Linked DNA regions of Homo sapiens. The protein of the gene in region 1 purifies or fractionates together with the protein of each later gene. This does not show direct contact. Each region holds a gene or a part of one and is shown on either strand. Other genes may lie near its edges.

Region 1 (3,500 bases):
CTGTAAGGTCTATATGTCCCACTTCAAGTCGTACAACATTGATTAAAAGTAGATTTTTAAACATTAAATATGTTTACTGTAATCCTTAGAGCAACCACTAAAACAAATAAGCAGAGAAACAAAACTGAAACAAAACAAAGAGATATAGTCAAAATATAACAGATAAATAAAAATGGAATATTTAAAAAATGTTCAACTATCCCAAAAGAAAGCTGGAAAGAGGAATAAAGAAATGGAAAGCAGAGCTTAATACACAGAAATCAAATATAAAATGGTAAACCTAAATCCAAACATATCAATAATTACATTAAATGCAAAGTGTCTAAGCACCCATTTAAGACACAGAGATTTTCAGAATGAATAAACAAACATATGATCCAATTATATGCTGTCTATAATGATAATGATACAGGCAGATTAAAAGTAAAAGAATGGAAAAATATAGACCATGCAAGCTTTAATCTAATGCTGGAATGACTATATTAATATCAAAATAGGCTTCAGAGCAAAGAAAATTACCAGAGACAGAGGGATATTCCATAACCATAAGAGTCAGTTTACCAAGAAGACATAACATTCAAAGTGTATAAAAACTAAAAACAGAGCTTAAAAAATAAAGCAAAAACTGTCAGAAATAAAGTATTAATAAACTCACAAGCATAGTTTGAGACTTCACCTCTCTCAGTAATGCATAGAACTTATGGAAAGGGAATCGGCAAGACTTAAATGTTAGACCTAAAACCATAAAAACCCTAGAAGAAAACCTAGGCAATACCATTTAGGACATAGGCATGGGCAAGGACTTCATGTCTAAAACACTAAAAGCAATGGCAACAAAAGCCAAAATTGACAAATGCGATCTAATTAAACTAAAGAGCTTCTGCACAGCAAAAGAAACTACCATCAGAGTGAACAGGCAACCTCAGAATGGGAGAAAATTTTTGCAATCTACTTATCTGACAAAGGGCTAATATCCAGAATCTGCAAAGAACTCCAGCAAATTTACAAGAAAAAAACAACCCCATCAAGTGGGCGAAGGATATGAACAGACACTTCTCAAAAGAAGACATTTATGCAGCCAAAAAACACATGAAAAAATGCTCATCATCACTGGCCATCAGAGAAATGCAAATCAAAACCACAATGAGATACCATCTCACACCAGTTAGAATGGCAATCATTAAAAAGTCAGGAAACAACAGATGCTGGAGAGGATGTGGAGAAATAGGAACACTTTTACACTGTTGGTGGGACTGTAAACTAGTTCAACCATTGTGGAAGACAGTGTGGCGAGTCCTCAAGGATCTAGAACTAGTCCTCAAGGATCTAGAACTAGAAATATCATTTGACCCAGCCATCCCATTACTGGCTATATACTCAAAGGATTATAAATCATGCTGTTATAAAGACACATGTACATGTATGTTCACTGCGGCACTACTCACAATAGCAAAGACCTGGAACCAACCCAAATGTTCATCAATGACAGACTGGATTAAGCAAATACACCATGGAATACTATGCAGCCATAAAAAGGATGAGTTCATGTCCTTTGTAAGGGACAGGGATGAAGCTGGAAACCATCATTCTCAGCAAACTATCACAAGGACAAAAAACTAAACACCGCATGTTCTCACTCATAGGTGGAAATTGAACAATGAGAACACTTGGACACAGGAAGGGGAACATCACACACTCGGGCCTGTCATGGGGTGGGGGCAGTGGGGAGGGATTGCATTAGGAGATATACATAATGTAAATGACGAGTTAATGGGTGCAGCACACCAACATGGCACATGTATACATATGTAACAAACCTGCAGGTTGTGCACATGTACCCTAGAACTTAAAGTATAATAAAAAATATTTCTTCTTTTCCAACATTAGCCTTTAATTCTATAAATTTCCTCTCAGCACTCTACCCACATTCTGTAGATATAATATGTTGTATTTTCATTTTTCCTCAGTTCAAACTATTTCCTGCCTTCCCCGGAAATGTATATCCTGCTTTGTTTGAGTGGAGAATTTTATAAATGTCCATTAAATTTGAATAGATAACTTCTAAGGATCTTCCACCGTATGTATTAATTGTCTGAATCTTTCTAGTGAGTATGGCAGAGATTGATTAGCTGTTCACCTAAACAGTTTGCTCTTCTTTCTGGGCACCCAGCTAAACTTAACATCTCAGCCTCCTTTCCAGTTAGACAAGGTCATTTGTCTGGGTTCCAGTGACTAGAATTTGAGCAGAAGTAATGGGTACCATTTCCAGTCCTAGCCCATAGAAATCTCCCATCCTACAAGGAGGATGTATTGGTGACCCTACATATTGTCGCTGTCATCTGCTGGACAGGTGTTGACACACTGGGAAACAGCAATTTATGCCTTGAAGGAAACAGTAACAATTATGGAAGGAGCCTGGGTCCTCGAATCACCAGATGTAGGGAAACCATCCATCAACTAAGAACTCCCACCTTGTACCTAATGTGAGTGAGAAGTAAACTTAAATTGTATTAAGCTACTGAGATTTTGCAGTAGCAAGTAGCAAAAATTTTTAAATATGGTAAGAATATGAAGGAAATAGGAGTGATTGCTGGAGTCTGAAGTTTCAGCTTTATACACCCAGAGTTCTCCTTTCTTGGAAGATAATGGTATTAATAATGATTATCATCTCTGTGAAGACAAGCCTGAGTTTTCAGGTACTGATGGATTATGTCCTCTTTTCTTAGCCAGGACTGCTGCCCTGGGATTTAAGGAACTCAAGAAATTGAATGTAGAATGTTCTCATTCAAAGAGGAGAACATGGCTGGAGGAAGGCAAGTTTCTGAGGAAACCATCTATGAGAATAAATCAGACTTTACACGCTGCCTTGAAAAAATTCTACTTCAGATTAAATGGCCAGTTCTGAACATTTGGAGCTAGGTTACCTGCTCCTCAATTTACAAACACACACACACACACACACACACACACACACACACACACACACACGCTTTTGCCTCCTATTCATCAAAATGGCTCAATCAGTAGAGTTGCTGTTTGATGGGATAAAACATGTTTGAAACAGAGCATGTCTTTTTATCCAAAAGATAATTTACTGAAGGTTCACAACCAGGTGGGTGGTGAATGTATAAGGTTGGATAGTGGTTATGACAGACAGTGTGTGAGAATAAGTGCTGAACAAAATCTGGACAGGCAGACGTGAAGGTCTGTTTCCTGGGATTATAACCGAGATGAGACAACTATGTGTGTGTGCGTATGTGTGTGTGTGTCTGTGTGTGTGCGTGTGTGAGAGAGATACATACATGTGAGTCCCCTTATTTTTATCTCTAAAACAAAGCTTTCCATCCCAATAATTTCCCAGAAACTAATACTTGGAGTACTAAAAAGTACTAAAACATAGTGCTTTTGTTTTTTTGTTTTTGTTTTTGTGTTATTTTGTTTTGTTTGAACAGAGAAAGAGCCATTATTTTTTTATCGGAGAAACCTAAGGTTTAATCTCA
Region 2 (3,500 bases), on another chromosome or scaffold:
TAATCCCAGCACTTTGGGAGGCCAAGGCAGGTGGATCACTTGAAGTCAGGAGTTCAAGACCAGCCTGGCCAACATGATGAAACCCTGTTTCTACTAAAAATACAAAATGAATTACCCAGGCATAGTGGCTCATGCCTGTAGTTCCAGCTACTTGGGAGGCTGAGGCATGACAGTCACTTGAGCCCGGGGAGGCGGAGGTTGCAGTGAGCGGAGATCTTGCCACTGCTCTCCAGCCTGGGTAACAGAGCCAGACTCTGAGTCAAAAAAGAAAGAAAACCCAGTATCATAAATCAAAGAACAGAAGTCCTACCTTCCATAGTGTTGAAGATTTCCTGGCATTTCTGCTCTTATTGGAGAATCCCTTCCTGCTAACTGCAAATACATTTAATGTTGAGAATGACTTATCAGACTTTTTATTTATTTTCCAAGCTTTGAAAAACAGCATTATCTACTAATTGGTTCCATGCCATTTGTCTTTTTCTTTTAGAGACAGGATCTTGTTCTGTTGCCCAGGCTGGAATGCGTGCAGCATGATCATGGCTCACTGCAGCCTTGAACTCCTAGGCTCAAGCAATCCTCCCACCTCAGCCTCCTGATAGAGGCATGTGTGACCAAACCTGGCTAGTTTTTAAATTTTTGGCCAGGTGAGGTGGCTCATGCCTATAATCCCAGCACTTTGGGAGGCCAAGGCAGGCAGATTACTTGAGCCCAGGAGTTTGAGAATAGCCTGGGCAACATGACGAGATCCCATCTCTACAAAAAATTAGCCAGGTGTGGTGGCACACACCTGTAGTCTCAGCTACTTGGGAGGCTGAGGTGACACGACCGCTTGAGCCCAGGAGTTTGAGACCATGCGAGTCAACAAAGTGAGACCTCGTCTCTTAAAAAAAAACTTGGAAAGCAGGAGGACAAGAGGGAGGGAACGAACAAGCGAAGAGAGTGAGTTCAACTGAGCCAAAATGATTTTTGTATGTTAAGCTCTGAAAATACTTTGGGGAGAACACAGTGATATCATTTAAAAGTTCTCTGCAGGAAACCGGGAAATTAAGTACTAGAGTGGAAAGCCGGGTAGGCACTAAAACATCTACTGAAAATTAGGTCTCCTGTTGATAGAGGAAAAGACTACACAAGTCGATTGTTTTAAAGATCACTGGCATTTTAAAGGTTCCTAGAACCCGATCTAAAATCCAATTTTTTGGCCAGGAGCAGTAGCTCACGCCTGTAATCCCAGCACTTTGGAAGGCTGTGGCGGGTCAATCACCTGAGGTCAGGAGTTCGAGACCAGCCTGGCCAACATGGTGAAACTCCGTCTCTACTAAAAATATAAAAATTAGCCGGGCATGGTGGCAGGTGCCTATAATCTCAGCTACTCGGGAGCCTGAGGCCGGAGAATTGTTTGAATCCAGGAAGCGGAAGTTGCAGTGAGCTGAGATTGCACTACTGCACTCCAGCCTGGGCGAAAAGAACAAAACTCTGTCCCAATAAATAAATAAATAAATAAATAAATAAATAAATAAATAAATAAAATAAAATACATAAATTAAAAGTAAAGTAAAATCCAATTTTCCTCTACTCAATGACTCACTCCTCTTAAAAACATGCTTGTGGACTGGGGGCGGTGGCTCACGCCTGTAATCCCAGCACTTTGGGAGGCCAAGGTGGGCAGATCACAAGGTCAGGAGTTCGAGACCAGCCTGGCCAACATAGTGAAACCTGTCTCTACTAAAAATACAAAAAAATTAGCTGGGCGTGGTGGCAGGCACCTGTAATCCCAGGTACTTGGGAGGCCGAGGCAAGGAGAATTGCTTGAACCTCTCCATCCCAGGCGAAAGTTCGAGACTCCGTCTCAAAAACCAAACAAACAAAAACACACACAAAAAAACCAACACACAGACACACAAAACGATGCTTTCTGTATCACATCTGAATGTCACATACTGGAGGAGAGCTGCATGTGGTTTTCTGTGCTAATTGATATACAGTGACACAAATATCACAGTAAGACAAAACATACATCAGAAACGATCAGAAACGCCCCCATGCACCACCATCTCACTCCACCTGCCCTCTCTGTGCCCCTGCATGTAATTGTGCGCAGCTATGGTACCCATCATACCTCAGGTTCGATGTGCCTTGGAAAAAGGGAGGTGGTAAGGTATTTGTATAAAATTCTCATGTCATCTTGTTCTAATCCACTCCTGCAACAACAGAAAAGCACTGGGTTAAACGTTTGGAACTGTCTTCTGTCTTTCCACTGCTGTGATAAAGCTCATTAAACAAAAATTTTTTTTTCAAGTCATTTTTAGTAACACAGAATAAATTCTAACTTTTTAAAGTCTAAAGCTACTTAAAACTCAAAGCAATCTATTTTTGTACCTGAGATCAAAATGAGTTTCCTTTTTCCTAAACATAATTCTTAGCATTGAGGTAAATCTGAATTTACGTGGTATACTTTGTCAAACTTTTCCAAAGAATTTGAAGCCCTGGATAAAACTCATTTTTTATTAAAAAAAATTTTTTTTTCTTTTTTTTTTTGAGACAAGGTCTTGCTCTGTCACCCAGGCTGGAAGCAGTGGTGCGATCATGGCTCACTGCAGCCTTGGCCTCCAGGGCTCAAGCGGTCCTCCCATCTCAGCCTCCAGACTAGCTGGGACTACAGGCATGCGCCACCATCAGCTAATTTTTGTATTTTATGTAGAGATGGGGGTCTTGCTACGTTGCCAGGCTGGTTTCGAACTGCTGGACTCAAGCAGTGCTCCCGCCTCAGCCTCCTAAAGTGCTGGGATTACATATGTGAGCCACTGTGCCTGGCCTCATCTTTTTTCATTTTTCAAGAGATGAGTCTCGTCTGTCGCCCAGGCTGGATTACAGTGGTGTGACCACAGCTTGCTGCAGCCACCGATTCCCAGGCTCAAGCGAACCTCCCACCTCAGCCTCCTGAGTAGCTGGGACTACTGGTGCTTTTCTCTTTAACATTATATCAAGAGGCTCACCACCTGACTGCGAAGTTAAGGAAGGTAAAGGGTTAAACTTGAGTCCAGGCACTGGAACTTTATCCTGACCTGCAAAAGGCTACTCCTACAGTCCTGTATTTTACATGCCATTTGAGATAAAAAAAAAAAAAAAGTCACAAGGGATTGGACTCGCTGGTTGAATTCCGTGTAGGATTATGCAGGAAACCTCCAAAGCCACACTGTTTCATTTTAGGAGCAGATGTCTCTTAGCTTCCTGGGTTATATGGTAATGCCACATTCTCTCCCCTAGTCCCCTGGGAAAATATGGGTATGCTGTAGACAGGGAACGTGATCCTAGGTCTCAGAAATGTACATGGATTTTAATTCTCCGGATCTTCGGTGAAGAAAGAGGAGGAGGAGAAAAACAAGCTTTCAGGCAAACCACCTGATCTGAAATGAGGCAGGAAGGAGCAGCACATGGAAAAAGCACAGAGAAACTAGCAGGTATCAGACTCTGGAACCGGTTTTTTAAAAGGAGACAGACAA

The links. Proteins that work in one complex are often made in the same cells at the same time.
Region 2: the proteins of UPP2 (region 1) and CCZ1 purify together in Homo sapiens (affinity purification with mass spectrometry, with the first as the bait; one large-scale study listed by BioGRID). This does not show direct contact.

What each region holds. Positions count from the first base shown.
Region 1 is NC_000002.12:158,108,376-158,111,875, reverse strand, and holds part of UPP2 (uridine phosphorylase 2), read right to left. Parts: intron 1-3,500. UniProt on the Homo sapiens protein: Catalyzes the reversible phosphorylytic cleavage of uridine to uracil and ribose-1-phosphate which can then be utilized as carbon and energy sources or in the rescue of pyrimidine bases for nucleotide synthesis.
Region 2 is NC_000007.14:5,908,733-5,912,232, reverse strand, and holds part of CCZ1 (vacuolar fusion protein CCZ1 homolog), read right to left. Parts: intron 2,199-3,500; coding exon 2,117-2,198; intron 373-2,116; coding exon 311-372; intron 1-310. UniProt on the Homo sapiens protein: Acts in concert with MON1A, as a guanine exchange factor (GEF) for RAB7, promotes the exchange of GDP to GTP, converting it from an inactive GDP-bound form into an active GTP-bound form.